Linked DNA regions of Homo sapiens: regions 1, 2, 3 and 5 are each linked to region 4. The links come from fine-mapping of genetic effects on gene expression. A gene starts in region 4. Each other region holds a variant in brackets. All regions are shown on one strand. Distances are from middle to middle.

Region 1 (5,099 bases), 300 kb after region 4:
CACACAGATTTAGGTATGCTTATCAAGATAGCTCCTAGACAAGTACAAAAGAAAAAAAGAAAAGGGGCCGGGAACGGTGGCTCACGTCTGTAATCCCAACACTTTGGGAGGCCGAGGCAGGTGGATCACCTGAGGTCAGGAGTTAGAGACCAGCCTGGCCAACATGGTGAAACCCCGTGTCTACTAAAAATACAAAGATTAGCCGGGTGTGGTGGCAGGTACCTGTAATCCCAGTTACTTGGAAGGCTGAGGCAGGAGAATTGCTTGAACCCGGGAAGTGGAGGTTGCAGTGAGTCAAGATCATGCCATTGCACTCCAGCCTGGGAAATAAGAGTGAAACTCCGTCTCAAAAAAAAAAAAAAGGGGAAAAAGTAGCTAACACACTGCCACTCTCCCCTCCTATGTCCCTGGCAGACATCACTAATCAATCTTAGCACTCTTTCCTATTGAGCCAGGTAGCCATCTCAGAACTCATCTGACATCAGCCCTCCAGGCAGCCCTTTACCGACTGATCAGAGCGGATACTTGAGGTGAAACTGTCCTTACAGAGGTTCTGCCTCATTCGGAGGGTACAGACCCTGCCTTCCCATAGATTGTAGCAGTTAGTAGGGTCCCAACTGGAGCAGGAGATTTGGAGGGAGGAGGGGGCTGAGCACCCTATATACCTGACTATCTGTGCTCCAGCCCAGAAAGCCAACCCCTTCTATGAGGAGTGGTGGTTCTTGGTGGTCATTGCCCTGGTCGGCCTCATCTTCATCCTGCTTCTGGTCTTCGTGCTCATCATCCGGGGCCAGAGCAAGAAGTACGCCAAGAAGACAGACTCGGGTGAGTGAGCTGGCACCAGCCATGCTGGCTGGACTTGAGTTTTATGTATCTCCTTTTTGGCCAGAACAGGGGTGATCAGGTCCCTCTCCTGGCTCCTGGCAGCGCACCTGCTCTGGTGGGTGGGGCAGCCTAGGGTTTCTACACACAATCTCAATCTCTTATTTTGGTCTCAACTCTACCAAGAGAAAGAGGGGATAACCCAGCCAGGTGGAGAGTGGTATGGGAGAGGGGAGGCCACACAGTCTAAAGGGTGTCAATCTCCCGCCGACTTCAGGGAACAGTGCCAAGTCTGGAGCCCTAGGCCACAGCGAGATGATGAGCTTGGATGAAAGCAGCTTCCCTGCCCTGGAACTCAACAACAGGCGGCTCTCCGTCAAGAACTCTTTCTGCCGAAAGAACGGCCTGTACACCAGGTACTGGGCCCTCTGCGTGGGTTGGGGGCCAGGCCCAGCAGTGCCCAGGTGGGGAGAATGCTGGGGAAGGCCATAGAGCAGGGAGTGCCCACCTGGCCATACCTTGTCCTGGGAAACACCATTCAAGCCCCAGGGCTGGGAACGATCAGCAGAAAGACACAGTGGGGCCCAAGCAGGACAACTAGGGTCCCAGTCCCCACCATGCCCAATCACAGCCTGGGGGTGAGGGCGCACTGGGGAGAAATTTACAAGGAGGTAGCTACTAAGAGTTCCTGACAGTGACAGTAGAATGCAAATAACTGGCAAAATTTTTCAAACCAACCTACTGATGTTCGGAGCCAACTGCCAGGGAAACAGCCCTGCAGATCGTCACTGGCCCCAAAGGCAAGACAGGCCCAGCCAACGCAGACCGAGCAAAAACACCTTAGCGAAGGACGCCTGAGCACCCGCATTATCGCTATGCCCTCCTGTCTTCCTCCCCATTTGGGAAACCCTCTCCCCCAGGTCCTTATTTATACCTATTAAAGGACAACCTCCTATCCCCATCAGCCTCAAAGGGCAGCATCTGAAAGCAGCCCATGAGGACAGGACAAGGCTCGTGGTGCAAGCACAGCTCCTATTTTCTTCTGACTTCTTTCTAACCCCAGCCCCCTCCTAGGCCCTACTCCCTGTGGCCATCGGGCTGCCCATTTCCAAGGGCAGGAGCAGCTGCTGGGGCCCACCTGACCCTCCCCTGATGTGTGGCGGTTTTCTGTTCCCCTGAGCTCAAGAAAGACTGGGCCAGAGGGCTCCTGTCTCCAGCCTCAGCCCTATTGGCATTCCCAGCTCATTGGAGGCGGCAGTCAGGAGGAGTCCAGCCTCTCTCAGGAGCTCACAAAGCTTCCCTCTGTCTCTGTCTTAGAGGGACGAAGCTATGTGTGTGTTCATCTAGAGGATGGAGGGAGGAGCTCCCAAAGCCGAGCTCTTATCCTCTGCCAAATCCAGCCTTCCAAAGAAAGAGCTGTTTGAGGCCCCCACAGCAGGCCCAGCCAGGCCCAGCATGGCCATAGCAGCCCCGCCAGGCTGGCTCCGGGGCCCTACTACATGTAACAAGGGGGCATTTCACACGTGGCCTCACCTTCCCCTGCCCTTCCCAGCCTCTCCTACCCACAGTGCACACACATCCAGGCCCCTGTGTGCCCCCAAAGCCACTGTGTGTACACAAAAATCCCGTTTGCACCAAAGCAGCCCCAGGATGTGGGGTCCTGAACCCAGCCACGGTGACATCCCCCCTACATTCACCCTGCATGTTGCCATGACAGCATTAGCCGGGCACCCCATTTTTCCCTCTTTGTCCTCCTCCAGATTCCTACCTCCCAGGCCCGGGCCCCTGGAAGGCAGACCCAGGAAGGAGGAGGAGCACAGGGTGGCAGGGATCCGTGTTCCCCAGGCCCCCACTGTGGTCTCCCTAGGCCAGGGGAGGCCGCTCTGAGTGAGTGCACCTCTCGGCCCCACTCCCCCGCTCTCTCCAGGTCTCCCCCCAGGCCCAGCCCAGGCAGCCTGCACTACTCGGATGAGGATGTCACCAAATACAACGACCTCATCCCTGCAGAGAGCAGCAGCCTGACGGAGAAGCCCTCAGAAATCTCCGACTCTCAGGTGAGGGCAGGAGGGCCAGGTGTCCTGCAGGGGGCAGGGAGCAGCGCCTCCCAGAGTGGGGCAGTGAAC[G/A]TAGATGGGCTTTCTTCCTTTCCTTCAAGGGGCAGCAAATATTAAGGGGCCCAAGAAACCACCCTGAAGTCATATATGGGCCATCTGTCCCCTCCCAAGTTCTGCTCAAAGTTTGCGGCCAGTGCCAATGGGGTCCCGGGAACCTTGATCATAGGGGGTACCCCGAAGAAGACGGCCCTCTCTACGTTCAGGGGTCACCCCACAGGCTTAGTTACTCATTAGGGCTGTCCTGCAAGAGAGCACGCTGAAGGTGCGGAGAGGGAGACTCTGGGGAGAAGGTTGACACACAGCCCTGCATTCCAGGCCAGAGACCTGGAAAAATGCTCAGCTTCACTACTCACGCATCAAAACAGCTTCAGAAACAAAGGGCTGGGTGCCCTGGAGCCCTGAGGATGAGAAGCAGTGTAGACCAGGGAGACATTAAGCTTTGGAGGTTTGGACCTGAGTGTGAATCCTAGCTTTGCTGCTCGTGACCTGGGATGTCCTGGGTGTGCCAAGTAACCTTTCTAAGCCTCAGTTTCCCCATCTGTGGAACAGGCAGGGGTGATACTAGGCTCTGTCCGAGGCTGTGGGGAGGATCTGCTGAGTTAGACACTGGTGAACTCAGTGTAGAGCCAGGCACACGGCAACCATTCCGTAAATGTCAGCTTTTATATGAAGAGGGGGTCGGTGCCTCTGGAAGACACAGAGCTTCAGAGAGCGGCCATTAGGTGGGTCACGTGGGGACACTGTCCCAGGCTGTGTGGGGAAGGGGCTGTGTGTATTCCAACCATGCAGCCTTACAGCTTCCCACCCTCACCCTCTGCCTCAGCCAAGCCCAGTGGTTATTGAGGAAAGGGCCACGAAAGGCCACTGCATCCCACGCCCTGGACCTTTCTGCCCAGGCCTGGGAGAGGAAGTGAAGGAAGAGGTGCCAGCAGGGAGCTGGGCTGCTGGCTGTGCAGGAGGTGCCAGGAAGCCTGGGATCACGCTGTGGGCCCCGTGGGCTGAGGGCCTCCCACTCACTGCTGTTTTGTTCAGCTCCAGGGTTACTGATGGGCTTGGCAGAGCTGAGAAGGCTGGACCTAACTCCCTAGCTCAAAGCTGGCAGGGACAGAGACCCCCAACTTAGCATGGCTTACCCAGGAACTTATTGTGGGGGACAAAACCCACGTGATCCAAGTTATGAGTTTTTTTGTTGTTAAGCCAGGGTCTTGCTCTGGAGTGCAGTGGCGCAATCTCCACTTACTGAGACCTCTGCCTCCTGGGTTCAAGTGATTCTCGTGCCTCAGCCTCCAGAGTAGCTGGGATTACAGGCATGTGCCACCACCCCTCACTAATTTTTGTATTTTAGTAGAGATGGGGTTTCACTATGTTGGCCAGGCTGGTCTCAAATGCCTGACCTCAAGTGTTCCCCCGCCTCAGCCTCCCAAAGTGCTGGGATTACAGGTGTGAACCACTGTGCTGGCCCCACTGTGGTCCTTATGAGGCTCCTAAATAAGTCAGTGCTGCTGCCACTCAGCCACGTGAGAAGCAGCTCGGCTACCAATCAGCATCTGCAATGCGGAGCCCCCACCATTGCGACCTTCAAGTGGGGGCTGATGGGGATGCCACTGGTAGTTCTCCTGCCTGTGACAGTTTGTGCAAGGGTACGTCCCTGAGGATCAGCAGCTGCACAGGCCAGGGCCCCTCGGTTTCAGCCGCCAGGAAAAATGACTGCCTCTCTTTTCAAGGACACCCCTTCCCCCAGGTCTTTGGAGAGTGGGTTTTGCATACGCCACCTGGTTTATATTCTGAGACAGACCACCCAAAACCCACTCTCCAAAATTGGCAGAAATCTGCCCAGTCGTTTTCCTGTGATATGGCAATAAACAAAGCGTCAGTTTGACTTATAAACAAACACATATGATGTGATGTGAGAAAGGCTATAATTCAGCTGGGGGTGATGGGCTAGAGGAGAGAGGGGCTGGCTCTCCCGTAGAGGGCCCAGGGTGCAGGAGAAGGGGGCACCAGGCAGAGGGCAGGATGCACACAAAGACTGGAGATTTAAAGGCCTGTTTGATGGAACTTTAACACTGCAGCCTGGCTGGACGGCAACTTCATTTTCAAAAGAAGAGCCCAAGTTTTGTACAAAAAAAAAAAATGTATATACTTAGCACACAAGTAAATCTCAAT
Region 2 (5,099 bases), 72 kb after region 4:
TGCCTCTGTCCTTGGTGCAAACTTCCTCATCCCACCACAGGCGTGTCTTTTGCTGAAGTCATCCCCCACGGCCCCCAGCTCAGTGCTGCATGTATTGGGCTGCAGACGGTGTGGAATTTTGGTTGACTTTGCTCTCCCTTTTTATACCTCCTCTCCCCCTTGAGACTGTGAGCCCCTCAAGAGCAGGCCCTGCCCCTTCGTGAGAATCCACAGCCCCAGCTTTTGTTCGTCTTCCTCTCCTAGCCCTAGCGCTGCTGCGTTGCCGTTGTCTGTGTATGCTCTGTCTCCCACGCTAAGCTGAGCTCCTTGAGCACAAAGATTGTCTATTCAACTTTAATTCCATAATTACAAAGACAACAATCATATCTTACTTGCCAAGTGCCAGACGCAATCCTACATGCTTTACACATATTAACTCGTTTAATCCTGATCACCACCTGGTGAGATAACTGTGATGACTGCTCTATTCTGCAGATATAGTACAGACTGGCACGGAGAGATTACGTGTTTTGCCCCCAGGTCATGGCTAGCAAGAGATAGTGCTTCAGCCCCAAATGAGTCTACCTCAGAATCCAAGCTCTCGTCCACATTGCTATGCCACTTTTCACAGCCTCACATGATGCCTGGAACTGGCAGGCGTTCTGGAAATACCTGGTGAATGAACGAGTGAAAGAATGAAGTGCTGGTTCAGAGTGGCTCCTTCTGAGAGCCCTGGAGTGATTGGGGCAGATTTGGAGTCCATGAGGGAGAACCCAGGGTTTCTTTGATTACAAGAGTTGTCACAGGATGGCCCAGGTCAAATTAGAACTCAGCAGTGGCTTTGATCTTCCCGATGCAGGTGTCATTCGCCCCATTGAGGAGCCTGGAGCCCAGGGAGCTTCAGCAGCCTGCCCAGGATCACCCCAAGGGGAAGCAGCAGAGCCAGGACTGTTTGATTCCCAGGGGATATGCCCATCTTCCAGATTCCCAAACCCAGGCAGAGCCCAGCCTCCCACTAACAGGGGCTCAAGGAAGGTTAATTGTCTGAGACTATACGAGCAGTCCTTTAGCCAACCAGTCACTGAAACCTTGAGCAGAGAGGACAGATGGCTTCCCTAAGTCCTAGGGCTGGCCTCTACTAAGGTGCAAGACTTGAACTCTTGGTCTGTTGGTATAGCCTCCAAACCCAGCACCCTCTAGGGTGTTCCACTGGGTTTCCACCAGAGACTCATACTTCTCAAGACTCAAGACTCACCCTCTTGGTTAAGTTGTACTTGGGTCATTATTACCAGGAGCATCTGATCTTCTAGCATAAGCCAGGGTGGTAGAAAGTGTCTAGAGAGGTGGAGAAGGCCAGTATGGCATTAAATGTTTAGGAAGGAAGCAAGGGCAAGGCATTTAGAGCTTGCCTTGGTTCCGAAGGGGAGGTAGAGGTGATGGTGTGCCCACAGAGGACCTTGTCTCCTGGCTGATAGCTGAGCCTGGTGGGGAGGGCTGGCCTTGAGGGAAAGATCCACCCCCATCTCCTGCACTCACACACAAGGTAGTCTCCTGAAGTTGCAGCTACTGGGAAAAAGGGAGAGAAAAAACTAATAAGGCTGATCAGCGAGGCGTGTATGTGTGCATGTGTGCTTGTGTGTGCACGTACACATGTGCATGCACGTGATGTCAGCTGTGATCAGGGTTGGATCTGATGTTCTTTTATAAACAAATTTAACCAAGGGGAACTGATCAATTAATCAACAATGGATTTAAAAGTATCCATTCATGTAACAAATACTTGTGTCACCTACCCCTAAATTAATAGATATTACATAAATATTCATGTGATAAATATTTATTGGTGTATTAGGCAATGTTCTAGGGGCTGAAGGGACAGGAGCCAAACAACACAGACAAAAGTCCTTGCCTTCATGGAGCTTCCATTCCTGAGGGTCGGGCAAACAGTGAGGAAATGCATAGATGTGGGCAGAGCTTCCATTCCTGAGGTCAGGCAGACAGTGAGGAAGCGCATAGATGTGAGCGGTAGTGTCAGGAAGGGACAGGGCCCACGAAGGCCAGGAAGAAGCCAGCAGGTCTGGGGAGTGGCACTGGAGTGGTCCTCATGGTCGGGGAGGTGACATTTGGAAGGGGGCAGAGACGGCGGAGCCCAGGGCCCCTGAGAGCAAGGCCCGGATAAAGGGCAGGGTTGGGCATGTGTGGAGAGGAGGCTGGAGCACAGGAGAGCCAGGGGCCCATCCACACAGGCCTTTGCAGGTTGCAGTCTGGACTCTGGATTTGACTGGGTGTGAGTGGCAGTCACTGGAGGCTTTGAGCCAGGTAGTGGCATGATCCAATTTATGCATTAAATCAATCCCTCTGGCTGCCATGTGGGGCTAAGGCTCAGGGAGCGGAGGGGAGCAGGCATGCCTGGGAGGAGGCTGTGGTCCAGGCCAGAGCTGGTGGTGGTGCTGCCCAGGGTGATGGCAACATGGGTGGTGAGCAGCAGTTAGATTCAAGGTGCGTTTGGCGGGTAGAGCCAGCAGGATGTGCC[G/A]AGCTGATGGACTGAATGACGACTCCAAGGTTTGGGGTCCTAGCAGCTGGGTGAAGGGTAGAGGTGACCATTCCTGAGATGGAGAAGCCTCTGGGGAACTGGGTTGGGAAGGGGGTGCAGAGTGACCTATCTACTGGCTGTGGGCCTGCTAGTGCCAGGTACCAGTGTCCTTTCCCTGGTGCAGCAGTGAGGCAGGAAGCTGATGGTTGGGTCCCCAGCCCACCACGCTGGAGCTCTGAGGCTCCTCACTCACCCTCCTTAGACTCATCATTGTCTCAACCCAAAGAGAGACCCGAGCCACCTCGTGCACCCACTTCCATTGCCCAACGACCGCCTGCTGGCCCAGAGTGTGTTCTCTGCAGAGTTTTGCTCAGACATTGGGAAGGTGTCTGGGGGTGCTGATTGTGAGGAAGTGGAGGATGGAGAGGCCCCATCCTATATGAGCAGGTCATCAGCCTCCAAGGAGGTGGTGTTGCCCCATAGTAGCAGGGCCATGGGGCAGTCACCCGTTCCTTCATGTGGCACACCTGCACTGGACACCTTGGCATGTGTTGACACTAGACACCTGTGCTCTGCTTCCTGGTCCAGGAAGAAAGAGATAAGAAGGCGCCATTACAAGTGAGCATGCTGGGTGTTTGACGGCGCTGGGAGGCTCCCCGGGAGGAAGTATCTCAGATGAAAGATAAAGGACAAGTAGATACTGACCAGATTGGGGTGGAGGAGTAGATGGAAGACACATCAGTCATGAGGGCTGAGGACACAGAAGGGGTCAATGATAGGAAGATGTTGATGCCCCTTCTCCAGCAAGCTGAGCATCATATGCTTAGACCATTCATTCATTCAGTCAGTCAGTCAATCTTTATGGACTGCCTGCTGTGTGCCTAGCACTGGGCTCATGCTGGAGATGAGACAAAAACAGACATGGTCTTCCTCCCTACAGAGCTCAGGGAATAGGAAGGCGATAAGCAAATAACTACACAAATAGAAATATCACTGGAAAATGTAGGGGTATGCTAAGAAGGTGAAGAGCTGGGTGATAAGAGGGAGGCTGGCATGAGAGGAAGGGAGGGCAGGGCTGGGGACAGGGTGCCATCAGGATGTGGGGGTGGATGGGAGCTGGCTAGGAAGAGGGGTCGGAGCGCTCCAGGCACAGAAAACAGTGCGTGGTGCAGGCCAGTGGTTACTAAACTGTGTCTGCAGACCCCAGAATTCTACAGGGATAACTGAGCCCTCACGGCAGGTAGGGGATAGGACAAAGTGGGGAGGGAGGGAAACAGCAAAACAGACAGGCTGTGGACCCCACCCTCACCCCCACTTAGATGAGGACAACCACCCTTACCTCTGTTATATCTCTTGGGACCCTCAACAGGATTTTGTGGGGACCGAATCTAAAACCATTTGGACAGCTCTGATTTGGTAGAAGACAACACCTGCACTGAATGCCGAGGTCTTGTCCGCCTGCAGTTTAGGCCCCAGAACTGTCCATCTTTCCCAGGCACATCCCCATCATAGGGAGGAGGGGAGTCTCTGTGGGCACCCGCCTGGCCCGGCATGCCCAGGGTGCTGGCCCACCCAGGGGAGCTGGCCCCGCGGGCGCTCCTCCTTCCCCGTGGGCCGTGAGGTTGGCCATGGAAAGCCCGGCATGTGTTGTCAAGGGGGCACCTGGGGCTCTGCCTGTCCTGTCCCTGGGCCCCTGCAGGCTGGGAAATGCCCAGGGAGGAGAGAGCCCCTGTGGAGGGTCAGACCCCGGTCAGAGAGGGCAGGGGAGGGCAGGGCGCTGGCCGGGCCCCAGCCGGGCTCACCTTTCCTGGAAGGCAGGCCGGGCGGGAAACGGTGTTTCCAGTAAGAAGGCGTAGCCCCCGCTGGGCACATGCCCCACACCCGAGGAGGAGAGCTCTCGGAGCTCCTCGGCCCTAATGAGTGCTGTGGAGAGCTGTTTACAGCTAAGTGAGCTGTAATGGCTTTCTGCGGTCATTAGGCACAGGCTGCTTAGAGCGCCCGGGGGGCCACCGGGCTGGACTCCCACATGTTCCCCCCAGGACCCAGATCGATGGGCTCAGGGTTGGGCCTGGGTGGGCCACCGAGCTCCCTGAGTGACCCAGAGTGTCCTGTGGGCATTGGAAAGGGCAGGGAACTTGACTATCTACTGGCTGTGGGGTTGCTAGTACTGAATATCAGTGTCTTCGCCCTGGTGCCTCAGTGAGGCAGGAAGCCGGTGGTTGGGTCCACAGCCCACCATGCCTGGGGCTCAGGGGGCTCCTCTGTCACCCTCCTTAGCCTCTTCATTGCCTTGACAGAAAGAGACCCGAGCTGGGCATGGTGGCTCACGCCTGTAATCCCAGTTACTCGGGAAGCTGAGGCTGGAGAATCGCTTGAACCTGGGAGGCGGAGATTACAGTGAGCCGAGATCGCACCACTGCACTCCTTCCAGCCTCAGTGACAGATCAAGACTCCATCTCAAAAAAAAAAAACCCGAGCCACCTCCTGCAGCCACTTCCCAGCAAACTCCTGCTGGCCCAGAGTTCGTTCTCTGGAGTTTCACCCAGGCATTGGGAAGGTCCCAGCAGCCACTCAGGACCAGACCAGG
Region 3 (5,099 bases), 78 kb before region 4:
TTGTTATCAATATGATTATATGATTATCAGACATCATCATCTGCAATTGCTGTCACTGGGTAGGGCCTCCAGGGTCTCTGCCTCCCGCAATATGCACAGACCCTTCATCACAGACGTGCATATGCACACGCACACACATACACTCCAAGTTACATCAGCATTCATTCCCAGTTTGCCTAAAGCAGATTTTTCACCTGAAAATTCAGGATTCCTTGCCAGGTCCCTCTTTCTGGCCTGGCATGCAGGGACCCTGCCCTTTTTCTGCTGTCAGAGACACATGTCTGCAAAGCCAAGCTAGTTTAGGAAAGGAAATTTGTTGTAAATTGGAATCCTAATGCATTCCAAATGAGGTGATTTTTGCATTATTGGCTGTGTAGATAGAACTGTGCCACCGCCTCCCTCCATGGGGTCGGGAAGGGCAGGAGTACAGCTATTGTTCCGCGTTGGATGCTGGGTTTGAGTCCGTCGCAGAATCACAGTCCGGAATCTCAGAGTCGAGAGGCAGCTTTAAGGTCATTGCATCCCTAGCAGCTCTCACAGAGGCTGCTCCGGGCAGCCTGATTCCCCTAGGCCCCGGCTCCTGAAGGCCTGGCCCAGGGCTCTTCATGCAATTTTCCAGGTTCCTTGGACTGTATCTGTTTGGTCCTGAGAGTCTCCTGCCTAGTTCTTTCAACAGGGATGCTCACAACAGGACTCCACAGCCAGTGCTGTGTGTGCCCTCTGTCCCATGCCCCACAGCGCCTGCAGCAGCTAGATCCAGGTCTCGTCCATCCATGGTGACATCGGCCAAGACCAGAGCTGGAACATCCTTCCCCTCCCAGCAAGCCTGAGTGTCCAGAAAGCCCCTTTCCCTCAGGGATCTTTGGCTGGGCTCTAAGATCTCAGAAGTCTCTCCCATGTGTGACTATCTGAATTTTGTCAACACCCTCATAGCTGCAAAAAATCCCAAAGTGGGCACAGCAGGGAAGAAGCTATTGGAAGGAAGCATTTCCTGGGACCTGCCCCAGAAGGGAAGTGGGGACTGCTGGACAGGCCAGCTCCACGCCCTCTCCAGCCTCCCTCTCCTAGCACTGCTGAGCAGGACGTTGATTTTAAGGGAAGGACGTTGATTTTAAGAGCTACCCATTCCAGTGGCAATTAAAAGGCTCTGGCAGTGGCACGGGGCTTGTGCTGAGAGCTGGGAAGAGGCTTAATTAATTGCTCTAGTCCCTGGGAGCCTCATCAGCTCAGCCAGGAGCTCCATCGCTCTGTACTCTCACACCTGATAGAGCCTTGGCAGGCGAAGCCAGAGGGGACACAGGGCTGAGGAAGGGACTGAACCCTAGGCAGGAGAAGGATCTGCTTTTGCTCAGCGCCCCATAGCACACCCACCAAATTACACCCACCCCTACACACACATCTGGCACACACAGATGCACCTTCTCATACAAAACTAGAGGGCCTGTGGGCATGGGGATCCTATATTCCTGTTTGCCTGGGACACCTCCCATTTTACCTGTTATTGTGATGTAATCATTAATAGTACCTTTCCTAGTTTAGAGGATAATTTACCTGATCACCTACTTGAGGGGAGCTTAGGAGAGTGAGAGGGATAGGAGCAGATTGGAGAGATGCTACCGAGGATGGAGACATCAGTCCTATTTGCTTTGTTCTCTGTCCAGATCCTGTATCCTGGACAGAGGCCCCCTGGGAGTGGCTACTGAAGATTGCTATATCCTTCTCAACTCAGATGAGGATTCCCCATGTCAAATTCAGGAACACGAATCACGTGATACTCTGCTTCAAAACCTCACAGTATGGCAAAAACCCTTAGCTTTTAGGCAGGGTGAATGATTATATCTGCTATTATAAATCACAAAGACCTTTCTTATCGAGGTATCTGCATATCTGCTGCATGGTTATTGGTGTCAGGGAATCAGTTTTAAACTGTAAGTCCCCAGGGAAGATGTGGAAAGCATGTTGCATCTTGGGTGTCAGCTCTGGATCTCGGCATTCGTGGCTGCCTGCTGTATTGGAGTATGAAGAAGGATTCTGAGGCTGTGTCCCAGTTGAACATAGGAATATCATGAATTACATCTGCTTGGGCCACGGGAGATGAATTAGTGAAATCCTTGACTGGTATCTGTCAGTCTCGTCCCAGAGGGTATCAGAAGTCTCAGGGTGTCTCTCGCTGCAGAGCCTTGGCCTAGTGCC[C/A]TGCTTGAATGAACGTTTGGGAATGACCCTGGGAACACTCTGCATTGCCTACAGGGCTCTCCCTCCAACTGCAGTACAGTCTCACTGCAAAGAGGGCACATTGTTGGCTGCCTGTCATTGGGAAGAAAATTGGACAAGTCTGGGACCAAGAGATAGCTTGGGTGGGCAAGATACCTTCTCAGAATAGCATCAGCCCTTGAAGAAATGGTCTGCCCCTGCCTGGTACCAGGCACAGCTGTGATACATCCAGAAAGATACATGGACATCCTGCCCCTCTCTTCTTCCTGTCTTCCTCCATCAGACCTCAGCCTCCAGCTTCTCAGGCAGGACAGCAGGGAGGCTGCCTCTCCCTCTTACTCTCAGAACCTTACCGTGGCCTGCTTATTAAAAGAATTCCACCCTTAAGGAATGCCTAATGTAAATGATGAGTGAATGTGTGCGGCAAACCAACATGGCCCATGTATACCTATGTAACAAACGTGCACGTTGTGCACACATACCCTAGAACTTAAAGTATAATAATAATAATAAAAAGAATTCCACCCTTAGACAGAGAGGCAGCAATGCAGAAGCTTTCTTGGCTCCACAGTCAGAGCTGCCACTTCTGTGGCAGGTGTTTCTTTGAGGTCTGTTTGGTCTCTTCAGTCACAACCACCCACCTCAGACAGGATGTTGTCTGTTCTAGGGTATCAGAGGAAGTATTTGCAAACAGGCCCATCTGTTCAAATGAGAACCAGGCTTCTCTCCCAAGCCTCACAAGGTCGCAAAGCCTGCGGTGTCAGAAGCTCTGCCGAATCCTTTATCATGTGTCTTTCCAGCCAGCGGCTGATGAGAGATCGTGTGTGAGAGATCATGTTGATTTGAAATTCAGCTGGTCCAGAAGGGGCCGGTCCTCCCTGTTGGCCATTTCAGGTCAGCTCCATAAAGGATGCAGAGGATGGGTTTTCATGATGGAAACACACGGCTGATATTTGCAAAGCTAGTTCATCCAGGAACATGAGTACAGGGTGAGTTTTTGGGGAGTGGGTGAGGTACAGGTGGCGATTAAGTCACTGTGGTGTGACTCCCATGTTGTCACAAAAAGATTGACCTTCCTGGCTGGGCACAGTGGTTCACGCCTGTAATCCCAGCACTTTGGGAGGCCAAGTGGGGTAGATCACGAGGTCAGGAGATCAAGACCAGCCTGGCCAACATGGTGAAACTCCGTCTCTACTAAAAATACAAAAAATTAGCCGGGCGGGGTGGCGGGCACCTGTATTCCCAGCTACTCGGGAGGCTAAGGCAGGAGAGTCACTTGAACCTGAGAAGTGGAGGTTGCAGTGAGCCGAGATCACGTCACTGCACTCCAGCCTGGGCAACAGAGTGAGACTCTGTCTCAAAAAATATATAAAAATAATTAAAAAAAATAAAAAAAGGCCAGGCACGGTGGCTCATGCCTGTAATCCTAGCACTTTGGGAGGCTGAGGTGGGCAGATCACGAGATCAGGAGTTTGAGACCAGCCTGACCAACATGGTGAAACCCCATCTCTACTAAAAATACAAAAAATTAGCCAGGTGTGGTGGTGCATGCCTGTAATCCCAGCTACTCAGGAGGCCGAGGCAGGAGAATCACTTGAACCCAGGAGGCGAAGATTGCAGTGAGCCAAGATCATGCCATTGCACTCCAGCCTGGGCAACAGAGCAAGACTCTGTCTCAAAAAAAAAAAAAAAAATTGACCTTCCTGATTCTATGACTGAACCTTGGCTGATGTCATGATTACCCAGAAAACAATCCCACTGGCTGAATTATGAAGTTAAAGAATCCGAACCCCAGAAGTTCCACTTCGCCAGTGACAACAGCCAATGAATGAACCATGTCCACAAACCACGCTGAAGCTAAGCCTCCGGACCGACTGCTCCACTTTTCCCTTAGATTTTGTCTCAGTGTAGTCCTATATGATGTCAAAATAGCTACCTAGGTTCAGCCCAAATCTCTGACTCTGGAATATGGAGGTTTAAATGGCTTAAAATGTTCCTGTATGGAGGCAGAAGAAAGAGACAGAGGAACCCTTCCCTTCAGCAACTGTGGGGTTGCTTCTTATAAAGGGCCGATTTTGTGCACTTTTTCCGAATTTGAGGCACGTTCAAAGCTGATTCCAAGTAAAACTATTGAGCAGTTCCACTTTTAATGTATTTGTCCCACAGGTTCTTGGTACCTGTTTGAACTGCCCTAAAAACAATCCCTAAACCCATAGACCTTTGCTGTCACTGGTCTTAGTTCAGGTTCACCCAAAAGCAGGTCCTGGGAGAAGGATCCAGTACACCTTTAGGAGATACAAGACCACAGTCAGGGAGGCGGGAGGGGACACAGGGAGGACAGGCAGCAGGGGAGGAGGAGGAGGAGCAGGGGATCAAGCCAGCACCCACGCTGGCAGCTGGAGCTTAGTCCTCCGGGGTCCTCTGGTGACCTGTAGAACAGATGCCTCCAAGTCCTCCCTGCTGAGGGCAAGGTAGCTGGGGTATTTATACACCCAATCCCCTCAGCCACCAGCTGAGTAGGCTGCTCTGGGGGAGGGTATTCATTTCCCCTCTTCTGACAAAGCAAACTTTTACAGCTTTAGAAAAAGCCCTCAGGCAAAGAGATGCAGACACTGGCAGGTGGAGTCAACAGGAGACCATGGAAGCCACCAGGCCCCGTCTAGCGCAAGCCACAGCACATTCTAGCTCAGAGCCCAAGGTTACCTTCCTGTCCTGTGCACAGGAGACAGGAGATTCAGCACCAGCGCTGGGCCTCAAGGCCTGCAGTGGCTGTTGTCTCGGGGCCCAGGGCTGGTGTCAGCCATACCAGCAGGTGGCTACGGCGGGTGACAGCCACATCGCTGCCTTCTTCCTCCTTGTGTGCCCTGTTCTATCCTAGAAGGTGGAAG
Region 4 (5,099 bases):
GAGCCTGGGAAATCCTCGCAGCCCTCCTGACGTGGCGCCCACTGTAACTGTACCGATGCAACCTCTAATTATACCGCTGGTGGCAAGAATGAGCTCATGGTGTCTGCAAGTGACTTTCCCAGTAACGAGCCCCTCTCAAAGTGGCAGACTCCCAGCTCAGCCTTCTCCTGGGCCAGCAAAACTCTGGCAAGAGGCAAAATCAGAGAGTTCCTTCCTGTGTGTGTATGTGTATGGGTTGAGGCCAAAAAGAGCTCAAATCTTCTTCTTCATCCTAGATGGATGGAGACCGAAATCTGCTGTAGGAGCTGCAGGAGTGGTGTCCTTTCCTCTCTAACTGGCAGGCATGCCTGGAGACTTCCAACAAAGAAAAGGAAACCTCCTTCCTCACACCAGTCCCTGATGGGTCCCCGTCTCACGTGTTAGGGATGAAACTCCCAGAAGAAGGTTTGTAGGGCTCCAAACGGTTGTGCAAGAGGCCTCCTCTTAATAAGGGAACGATGCTATTCGAGGCCCTAGGCACGTGGAGCTCACATTCCTGCCTGCTGGACTTCTGGGAATTGGGCACGATCAGGGTGGAATCCACCCAGGTTTCAGACTTTTATGTCCACGCGAACTCCTACCCTCTGTGATGTAAACGGAGATGCAGCCCTTTCTGCTATCTGGCCTAAGAGACAGAAGGAGAGGTTCCCCGCAAATACGGCTCTCAGGCCCCCTCTGTGAGCGAACAGAGTAACAGCACCCTAAAGACCAGAGCTCTTCCTGACAGTCTGGGAAGGGCCTGAGCTCACAGCTGGGGACATTCAGAGTATGTAGGGGGTGTGCACTGTCACATCTGGGCATCATTAAGCAGGTGGGAGTGACATGGCCACCAAGGAGAAGGAGAGTTGGTCACATCTAGGCTGCCTGCCCCCAAAGCCCTCGCATTTACAAATCAGCCAGCCAGAGGGGCTTCAGCTGGGGATGGAGCAGGTTGCCAGGGGGAAATGTTGTTTGAATTAGGTGATTGAAACGCTGTAGGCAAGGCAGGCCAGCTTCTCAGACATTTTTAATAAATGCTTACGGTTCTTCTTCCAAAGCAGGTGAAAGGAGAATATATAAGTAACGATATATTTGCGGTGGCTATGCCTATTCCACAGCAATCACAAGGGGTGTCCTTGGGGTGGGAGTGCGCCTGGGAAAGAGTTGGCAATCAGTGAGTGACAGTCCTAGACTTCAAGGACCAGAAAGACTAGGCAGCCGTGGGGGACCAGACTAAGTAGGACCACGAGAGAGAGTAGAGAGAAGCACTGTGGCAAAAGATGGAGGGTCTCACTAGCTCTTTATTTCCCAGAAGAAATATCAGACACGCAGGGTAGACTTCTGCATTAAGCACCGCAGGCCCAGTGCCAGGGACCATAGTCTTTTGGGGCCCATGAAAATGTTTTGATTTCTTTTAAAATCAGAAAAAAATAAGTAAAGCTTTAGGCTGAAGAACATGTTTTAATATGCAATATTAATATACTTTTCCTTATGCCAACGCAGTTGCAAAATCTTATTTTTAATAATTTTGTTAGCAGGGAAAGGAGTCCACCGAGGCGAAGGCACCTGAAATTTTCCCAGTGCCCGGGAAATTTTAACAGAAGCCTGTTAACCCCAGCTGAGCTTCGTGGAGTAGGCGCTAGCTCTGGGCCACAGCAGAGGACGCCTCCGGGCTCTCTTGTTTGAATTCCTCCACCAATGTCCGGTTCTTCTACTCTTTACAAGCTGGGCTCCGAAGGAAAAAAGAAGAAACAAAGAACGCACGCTCCTTGGCACCAACTTCACTTTCTCAGGCTTCTGCAGGTCCCAGGCCTCCCGATGTCTCCCCCTCCGCCCTGAGCATTTCCAGACCTTGGAGAGCCTGACTTGGGAAGGGGAAACTGGAATCAATCGGTTGACCGACCCCCTTTTCCCAACCGCCGCCTCCCCACCAATCACTCCATGTCCGGAAGGGGGCTGGGGGCTCCCGACTATAGGAGACTCTGGGAGTCCTATGAGGCCTTTGAGACAGGGGCGCGAGCGAGGCTGGAAGGAAAGGCTGGGCAGAGAGCGGAGGGGCTCGCGCGCATCTCTCCCGGCGCGGCAGAAGGTTGGCACTGCTGCCCCCCTGCGGGTCCCAGAGCCGCTGGGCGCCCGCGGCCGCGCAGTCGGATTGTATTTCTGCGGGGCTCGCTCCCGGGCCTGGCTCGGGGCCGCCGCCGCCGCCGCCGCCCCTCCCGGCGCGCAGGCTGCTCTCCAGTCGCGGCCACGGGGTAGCGCTCGGCCCCCCTCTCCGCGTCTCCGCCTCCGCCGCGCTCGTCCCCGGCTCACGCTGCCCCCGCAGCTCCGGCTCGGCGCAGGCAGGAGCGGCTCTCTGGACGCCGAGCCCGGGAAGCGGAGGGCGGCGGGCTCGGCGAGCGGCAGCGGCGGCCGAGGCGCTGGGGCGGCCGTTGCTCCTCCGGCCCGGGAGGTCGGCGATCGCCGGGCGTCCGAAGGGGCGCCGCGTCCCCGGAGCCGGGGCTGCCCGCCGGGCTCTCCGTGCGTCTTCCCGAGAGCTCCGGCCGGGGCGCGGCGGAGGGCAGAGCCGCCGGTCTCCATCCTCGGGCCGGCAGGAGGCTCTGCGCCCGGGCGCCGGCGACAGCCCGCGTCGCGAAGCCCAGCACCCTCCCCCGCCGCCCCGCGGCTGGCGCGGACATGGGCGCTCAGGGCTGCGCGCCCGGCTCCGGGACCCGCAAAGTTTGCTAGCCGGCTGGGCGCGGAGCCGAGGGCGCGCCCGGCCCCAGCGCCCCCGGAGGAGACCCGGCGTCTCCCGATTCGGCGCGAGGGCGGTGGAGCCCAGAGGGGGTGGTTCGGCCCCGCCAGATGCTGCCTGCAAAGTTAGAGAGAAGAAAACTTCAGCTCCAGGGAGATTCGGACCGCTATGCTCACCGCGTCCCCCGAAACCGGCGCCCCTAAAAGAACCCCCGCACCCGCGTCTGCCACTGCGCTCGGCTCTGGCCGGGTCCCGGGGGCCCGGCGCCTGGAACGGCGGTGACTGCGTCGGCCGGGAGAACCCAACCAGGGGGCGGGGAGGGGGCGGGCAACGTGGCCACGGGAGGAAGTTTCCTGAAGTTGTCCATTTATTCCGGAGCTCGGCCGGCGACCCGGCCGGATCGCAGAGGCCGCCCTGTTTGGGAGAAGTCGGAGTTGGGGTGCTAAGGGAGAGAGGCGCCCTAGTCCGAGAGGGCGGCCTGGCCTCTTTCTCCCTGCTCGCCCCTCGCCTTCCGGGCGCGCTGCCGGGCTCGGACTAGTACAGAAGAGGAGGAAGGGTTGGGGTAGCCAAGCGCTGCCCCTCCCGGGCATATTACACCCCGGGGCACGGAGCCGCGTAGACTGACTGTTTCCTGGGACTAAGCCACGGGGTATCGGACCCCACCAGGATTATAAAACAGGGCGGAGGGAAGGGAGACCCCGAGGACCCCTCTCCAGGCTGGTCACCATGTGGGGGCTTTTGATCTGGACACTGCTAGCTCTGCATCAGATCCGCGCGGCCAGAGCCCAAGGTAAGGAGGGACCCCCACGTGGGGACAGGGAGGGGGCTGGGAGAGTGGGCGGGGGAGGGGCGGCGGGAGCTGGCCGGCCTCACGGTGACCTCCTGGACACCCGGCTTAGCCGTGGCAGAGCCCTCTCCAGGGAGTTTCAAGACACCCCATCTCCCAAGTTTTGGGGCTCTTTTGGGGGTGGGGCAGTCTCTCCGAGACTTGTGGCTTCCGAATGGGGGAAGGTGGGGACGACCTGGGGAGGCAGAGAAGAGCCCAAGGTGAAGTGGGAGGGGCGCTCCCCTCCCCCCGTCTGCTGTGGCTGCCCTGCGCCGGCTTGGGAGGGGAGCGACATTCCGTGCCGGGCTCCACGCTCGGCTACGCTGAGCTTCCCAGACCGAGCTCCTGGTTCCCTGCTCGGTGTCTGCGGGGAAGGGCAGGGCCCCTGCCGGGCAGGCGATGGCCTCCCCGGGGCGAGGGAGTGGGGTGGGCGAGCGCTGGATGCCGGGTTGCTCGCCCGGGGAGAGCAATTGCCCGGCTTGGCCACGTACGGGAGCCCGCCCCTGGCTGCTCGGCCAGCCGCTGGGGCTGGGGGTGCTTCGCTGCGCGGGCCTGGAGCCAAGGTCGCGGGTGCAGCCGCGGACCCACCGGGGGGTGGTGCACAGGGAGGGTCTGAGGCCTCCCCTCCTACCCATCCACCCACACCCAGCATCCCCGCCCCTGCCTCCAGCCTCCGCTGTTCGCTCGATAGTCTGTGCAGCCGCTCGCTGCTGTGACCTGTGGCTGCCGGGAGCAGCCTCGCGGTGGAGAAGGGCTGGTGGCTTTGGGTTTGGGAGTGCTACGAAGGATCCGAGGTGTGATCTGCGCTGCCCGCTTCCTGAGGGTGGATGCCCAGACGTCCCCCTGGTCCCCGGGCAGGTCCCCGAGGTGAAGGGCGGCTGCACCGGCGGTTCCTCGACTTTGGGGTTCGCCGATCCAGACAGTGGTGTCAGCGGTGTCCGAGCGGCGCCTGCTGGGGGCGGAGGGAGACGAAGCCTGGACCGAGCTCCAGGACTCGCAGGGCTAGGCCTTCACTCTCGCAGGCTCAGGAGGGGGCCAGACCCACCCTAGGGGTCCGGACTGTGGGGGCTGCAACCCACTCCCCACGCCGCCTCGTGCGCCAGGCAATCCAGAGAGCCAAGATCAAAGAGATGAAAATAATCAGCTCTCACTCACAGGGCTGAGGGGAGGATTTTACGAGGTAATTTACATAAAAGCACTTCGAAATTTTGTAACGAGCCCTATAAATGTAGGGTAATAAAAGTTATTATTTTTATGATCATCATAAAATCTTTGAACAAGCGAGGACCTCAGAGGTCATCTTATTCTAGTAGCCATTTAACAGATAGGGAAACTGAGGCCAAATGGCATTAAATGACTTGCCCAAGGCCACTCTGTGATCTGGGGGCAGAGGCAGGTCTGGAACCAGATGAGTTCTGAGCCTCTCTCCCTCAAACCAGGACTAGCTGCATGGGGTCTCCTTGGTCTGGGCCCCCTCTCTGAGGGGTCCCAGGAGGACCCTGATGCTGGCAGAATAGGAATGGG
Region 5 (5,099 bases), 93 kb after region 4:
CCTCTGTAAAGATCCTATCTCCAAATTTAGTTGCATTCTGAGGTACCGTGGCTTAGGACTTCAACAGATGAATTTTGGGGGCAGGAAGTTTGGCTCATAACAGTGTGGAAGTGGTTCTGCTTCATCTAGGTGCCTTTACATAATGGATTGATGAGCTGCCCCTGTGTGCCTGGCATTGCGCAAAGCACTGGGCTTCCAAAGGGGAGGATGACTTGCCCCCTGTCCTCATCAGGGGGCCTCCTGGAAGAAGTAGAAGACCTGAAAGGGGGCAGAGACCATGGGTTGATGAGGACAAGGGATCTGCTCCAGGGTTAGGAATAGGTGGTCCCAGCTCCCCCTGGAGGACATAAAACCCCTCTCCCTGTGAGCCTCAGGGCCCCAGCTCCCCTAGTAACCCTCCCTCCATGCTCCTGTCCTCTCCTCAATGGGAAGAAGCCAGGGCTTCAGGGGGATGTGTTGGGGCTGCTAGGTATCTCCCCTTGAAGAGGTCTTCTGCAGGCCAGATTTATACCTAGGGAGGGAGTAGGGAAACCACCACTCCTGCATCCAATCTTATGCCCAAAAAGCCTGAAGGGAATCTGAGGCTCAGGCTGGAGCTGGTCATGCCCCCTCTGCCAGCACCTCCTCAGGAAGGGGGTGACTGGCATCCCTGGGTGAAGGCTATGCTGTAACAAGGGTGGGGGTTTGGGGGTGGTGCTATTCACCTGCAGGAGGTGTAGGCCCGAGGAAGGAGATTGCAGGTGGGATGGAGGCTGTGGCCAGGTAGTGGCTCAGGGGTGACCCTGGGCCTCAAACCTCTCTGTCCCCCCCTGTCCTTCCTTGTGCTATCCTGGCTTCTGAGAGGGCAGCTCCCTGCAGGAAACACCATCATAGGAATAGGTGCAGCCGGCAGGGCTTGGGGGTGACTCACCACTGGGCTGCTCACTGGCCCAGTGACTTTGGGCAGGACTTGTTTGATCTCTTGAGGCCTCAGTTTTGTCATCTTTACCAAGGGGATAATAACATCCACCTTCCAGGGTCACTATGGAGACCCTGGTATTAAATAGGCAGTAAGTCCTGGCTCAAAGCCCTTGACAGTGAGAATGGTCTATCAATATCAATTTCCCTACTGGAGGCAGCCTTGGGCTCCCACCACTGGCCCCCCGTGGCCTGTCCTGCCCCATCTCTGCCTCTTGCCTCTGATGGTATTCAGAACACACACACACCCCAGAAGGTGCTTCCATGCTCAAGGCCACCTCCATGCCCAGAGTGGGGCCAAGAGCTCCCTCTGGCCCTTCCCTCCCAGCCCCCACAGAAGCCTCTGCCTTTGCATTCATCCATCCAGAGAAGCAGCGTGACGCTGCAGCCGTCTGCCCTACCTGGGAGCTGCAGCCAATCCCAAAGGGTTGGGATTAGGGTGCTCGAGGAACCCAGAACCCAAACGGGTCTGAGCCTCTCCTCTACGGCTCCTCTCCAAACAGTTCATCCCATCTCTGAGCGCCAGCCAGAGGCTCAGGGCAAGGGCTCTCGAGTTGAGAACTTGCCAAGGAGAGGGCTTAGAGTGCAGTGTAAACGAAGCCAGAGCGAGAAGTGCAAATGAGTTGGTTCAAAGATGAAGTCGCTTAGGGAACTTCGTCTGGGAAGCAGCCTACAGCGGGGTCCATTGGCAGGGTAGTAGCACCGTCCTCAAGCTCTGCAGTCAGCCTGGCCGGGCTCAAATCCTGTTCCCCCGTATCCTGCCAAGTGACTTAACCCATTTATGCCTCAGTTTCTCATAGCTCAAGTGGGCGTGATGCTCGTACGTACTTCTTGAGTGCCGAGAAGCTAATCTAAGTGGCTCATGATGGGTACTCCGGCCGAGTACACTCAGACCTGCGCCTCGACCACTGACCGCTCGGCCATCAGCTGGCAATGTGGACGGCCACCCCCTCAGGAGGGTCCCCTGCGCCACTCCAGTTTCAATGCGTGACACAGATGTCATGCGTCCTCGCCAAGCTGCCTTAACATGAGGGGGTTCTATCTCAAATATGTTTCACAAATGAATAATAAAAACAAAGGAAAATTACCCTCTTTATTGAAACTCATTTTATGAATAA[G/A]ACAATTATTCTGGTAATTGAAAAAATGTGTCGTTAAATTAAATGCAGTGGTTCCTATTAAAATTTTAGTGCGTTTCTGCTGCTGCCGGCTAGAGGCTGGTAATTATAGACGAGAGTTTCGCTTTCTCTTTATTGTTTTTTAATCTCTCTGTGCTGTGGCTCTCCGACAATATTTTATGTCAGAGAGATTTAGAGCTGGGCCCCAGACAGGGGGGACAGGCTGGCCGAGGGGTGGGGGGCAGGCGGTGGGGACTGCAGCGGCACCTGCCTGACTCTAGGTTGCCTTGCCACCCTGGCTGTCCCACAGTCTTGGTTGGTCTCTTCACCCATCTATCAGTCTGGTGGCAGCCAATCACAGCCCCCTGAATCTAGTGCCCTCTCCTCTCTGACCCTCTTTTTACTCAAAAGGGGTTGGAGACAGAAGGGAAGCCTGGAGTTGGGTCTCCAGATGGACTGGGTCTCAGCTTCCTCTTGGAAGCTGAGTTTGGAAAGCAGCGGGGTGGGGTGGTCTGAAGGTCCCCCTGCCCTTAGGGGGACAACTAGGGAAGGTTGCAGAAGCTCTGCGTGTGTAAGCACCGTGAGGGCAGGGACCAGGCCTGTCTTGCTCGCTATGGCATCCACAGCGTCCATAGCAAACAGTGTGTTGGAGGCTTTTAATCCATGTTAAGGAAGGAGGGGAGGGAAGGAGAAAGGAACAGCTGTATTAGAGCCTGCTTGGTCCAGGAGGGGTTAGGTTGAGAAAAAGGTGGAAGAATGGCCTAGAGAAACTTGGGGTATCCTTTCCAAGTCACCCCTGACACCAGAGATGGAAGGAGGGAGAAAACCGAAGGCCTCGGCCGCTCCGCCCCCTCCCCATTCCTGGCAGGAGCTGCGAGGCTCCTGGGCTCACTTAGACCGTCAGTGACTCCCGGCAACATGTTATATGTCTCTGGCCCAGGCCGCGTTTCTGTTCTTTGTCTGGGAGATTAAGCTCCTGGTGGGCAAGGTCTCTGGCCATGCAACGTGCCACGGGGAGCTTGATGAATCGGGCTGGGGTGGGAGCGTGTGGGCATTTATCACGAAGGCACCAGAAGCTGATGGGGAGCCGGCCGCCATCACCCAACAGTGTGGGAGGGAAGACAAGGTGCGCGTGGAGTCCCCGGCTAGCGTGCTTTGTGGCTTCAGGCTACCACCTCGACCCACTGTGTCCTTCGTGGGCTGTGACCTCTCAGGTCCTTTCCTTGTCCTGCCTCTGCTCTGTCCTGTATCACAGGTGGCTGTCTTCCTGGCTTCCCAGGCTCCCCGGTCAGCTGGCTTCAGGTTAGGCTTGGCCAGTGGGAAGCACTGACAGGAGACAGGAGGTAGGCAAGGGAGAGAAGCTGGGGTCTCTCCCTTCCCTCCTGCCTCCACTGGCTTCCATGAGCAGCTGCGTTTGGCTCATGACTCCAGCTCCCTGTGGACGGGTGACTCGCCCTGGGATCCAGCAACCTCACTTCCTCCCTGGACCCCTCCGGCCTAGGGATGGTAGAGGCCTCTTGTGTCACCGATCTCTGGGTTACCTCACTGTCCCCCGCTGGGCTTCTCGCTGATTATCACCTGCAACCAGTTCCCTGTAGCAAATTCCTTCTGTGCGAGTATAGCCAGTAGTTTCTGCTTTCTTGAGTGGACTCTGACTCCATGCCAGCCTCCTTAACATCCCAGGAAGAGACGTGTGGCAGGAAGCTGCAGGGTAGGGGTGGGGGAATGGGAGACGGTCAAAAGCTCTGTGGCTTCCTTGGGTCCCTCCTGCCCTTCCACCGCCACCCTGACTCCCCCGCCACCCAGGGTCTCTGTGTCGTGGCCCTCCACCTTTCCAAACAAGTGGCTGCTCATGTCCAGCCCATTCTAATTATCCTTTGGTGCTACTTCATCCACCCCAGGACAGCTTCTCATTTTGGCAGTAATTGAGCTATTTTCCCAGCGGGACAAAGGGCTAGCAGGTTAGGGGTCCCTTCCTGGGGACGTAGCATTAAGCAGCATATATTTCAGAACCGTTAACCCTAGAGCAGAGTCGCTAGGAGGCCGGGGAGAACCAGAGGCTCCTACCTTGGCAGTCTGCCACCTCCCTGACCCCTGGCCCCCTGCTGCAGCAGGCTTAGAACTCCATCAAGCATATTTCCAAGCCAGGCCAGCTCAACCTGACCTGGAAACAGTCAGGAGCACTAGACCTGCCATGCAGGAAAGGGGCAGGTAGGGAGGGGGCCTGGCTGGTGCAACCAGAGGGAGAAACCCGGGGCTCAGTGCCCCCGGGACACAGTGCAGAGCAGCGGGAGGGGTGCATTAGTGTCTTGCATGCATCTGCCTCTATGCACCCCCGGCGGTCCTCACCCACAGTCTCATTCCAGATTCTGGTCACCACCACCCCTCCACCTGGTTATGACCAGGTCCCACTTGGCGTTCCCCACTACGTTGCAGCCAGAGTGATCTTTCTGTTACAGAAATCTGATCTGTTGCTGCTGAAACCCTTCAGTGCCTCTCATCATGCCACCTCGCTCACATCTTGAGCCCCGCTCTCACCCCTCTCCTTGTCTCTGCCCCCCATCCCCTCTCCCACACACTGTGGCTGATGGGACCTGCCGCATTCTGTCTGACCGGGTTGCTGTTTGTGTGTTCACCTCGCCTAAAACTTGCCCCCATCTCTGCTTGGCTGACTCCCATCCATCCTTCAGGGCTTGACTTAGACACTCCCTCTTCCGGGAAGCCTTCCCTGACCCATCCAGCCCCATCTACTTCCCCCATAGCATGACACCTTACCAAGACTTCCTCTTCAGTTGGTCTATGAGCAACTTGAGGGCAAGGGCTGAATCTTTGTTTGCGATTCCCAGCACATGCCAGGTGCTCCAGGAATGGTTTTTGGGTGAATGGATGACGGATCAAATCACTTAACTGAAAATTAATTAATCAGGTACAAGCTAAAGGGCAAAGAGTACCTGCAGAGCTTTGAGTCATGAGGAAGTGATGGGAAGCTTTCTTCAACAGTGAGCAGCCCAGGTGGCTGGCAGCTGC

Alleles and levels. Positions count from the first base shown, and alleles are read on the strand shown. Sizes are in standard deviations (SD) of each study's normalised expression. Not every link is listed here.
In carriers of allele A in region 1, the expression in cerebellar hemisphere of the gene that starts at base 3,119 in region 4 tends to be lower than with G alone (moderate effect, 0.50 SD a copy in GTEx).

What was found. PIP is the estimated chance that this variant, and not a neighbour inherited with it, causes the effect. A credible set is the group of variants that fine-mapping cannot tell apart.
Region 1: its variant is the best candidate, but not a certain one, in a credible set for the expression of SDK2 in cerebellar hemisphere (GTEx, PIP 0.77).
Region 2: its variant is the best candidate, but not a certain one, in a credible set for the expression of SDK2 in whole blood (TOPMed, PIP 0.59).
Region 3: its variant is the best candidate, but not a certain one, in a credible set for the expression of SDK2 in whole blood (INTERVAL, PIP 0.88).
Region 5: its variant is the best candidate, but not a certain one, in a credible set for the expression of SDK2 in whole blood (INTERVAL, PIP 0.67).

Annotation. Positions count from the first base shown.
Region 1 is chr17:73,346,376-73,351,474 of GRCh38, reverse strand. It overlaps SDK2 (sidekick cell adhesion molecule 2), which reads left to right. Exons shown (of 45, transcript NM_001144952.2): 42 at 685-825; 43 at 1,100-1,238; 44 at 2,750-2,876. Among named protein-coding and RNA genes, the nearest start is that of CDC42EP4, 37 kb to the right of the region's middle. RefSeq lists an enhancer at 3,304-4,153. The variant G/A (reference allele first, on the strand shown) is at 2,946.
Region 2 is chr17:73,570,955-73,576,053 of GRCh38, reverse strand. The region is part of intron 1 of SDK2 (sidekick cell adhesion molecule 2); the gene reads left to right. Among named protein-coding and RNA genes, the nearest start is that of SDK2-AS1, 60 kb to the right of the region's middle. The variant G/A (reference allele first, on the strand shown) is at 2,513.
Region 3 is chr17:73,720,188-73,725,286 of GRCh38, reverse strand. No RefSeq gene overlaps it. Among named protein-coding and RNA genes, the nearest start is that of LINC02092, 64 kb to the left of the region's middle. The variant C/A (reference allele first, on the strand shown) is at 2,194.
Region 4 is chr17:73,642,465-73,647,563 of GRCh38, reverse strand. SDK2 (sidekick cell adhesion molecule 2) reads left to right here and starts at 3,119. Exons shown (of 45, transcript NM_001144952.2): 1 at 3,119-3,539. The coding sequence starts at 3,476. It overlaps LOC124904054 (a long non-coding RNA gene), which reads right to left and starts at 2,090. Exons shown (of 2, transcript XR_007065893.1): 1 at 1,870-2,090; 2 at 1,460-1,743.
Region 5 is chr17:73,549,285-73,554,383 of GRCh38, reverse strand. The region is part of intron 1 of SDK2 (sidekick cell adhesion molecule 2); the gene reads left to right. Among named protein-coding and RNA genes, the nearest start is that of SDK2-AS1, 38 kb to the right of the region's middle. RefSeq lists an enhancer at 5,062-5,099. The variant G/A (reference allele first, on the strand shown) is at 2,076.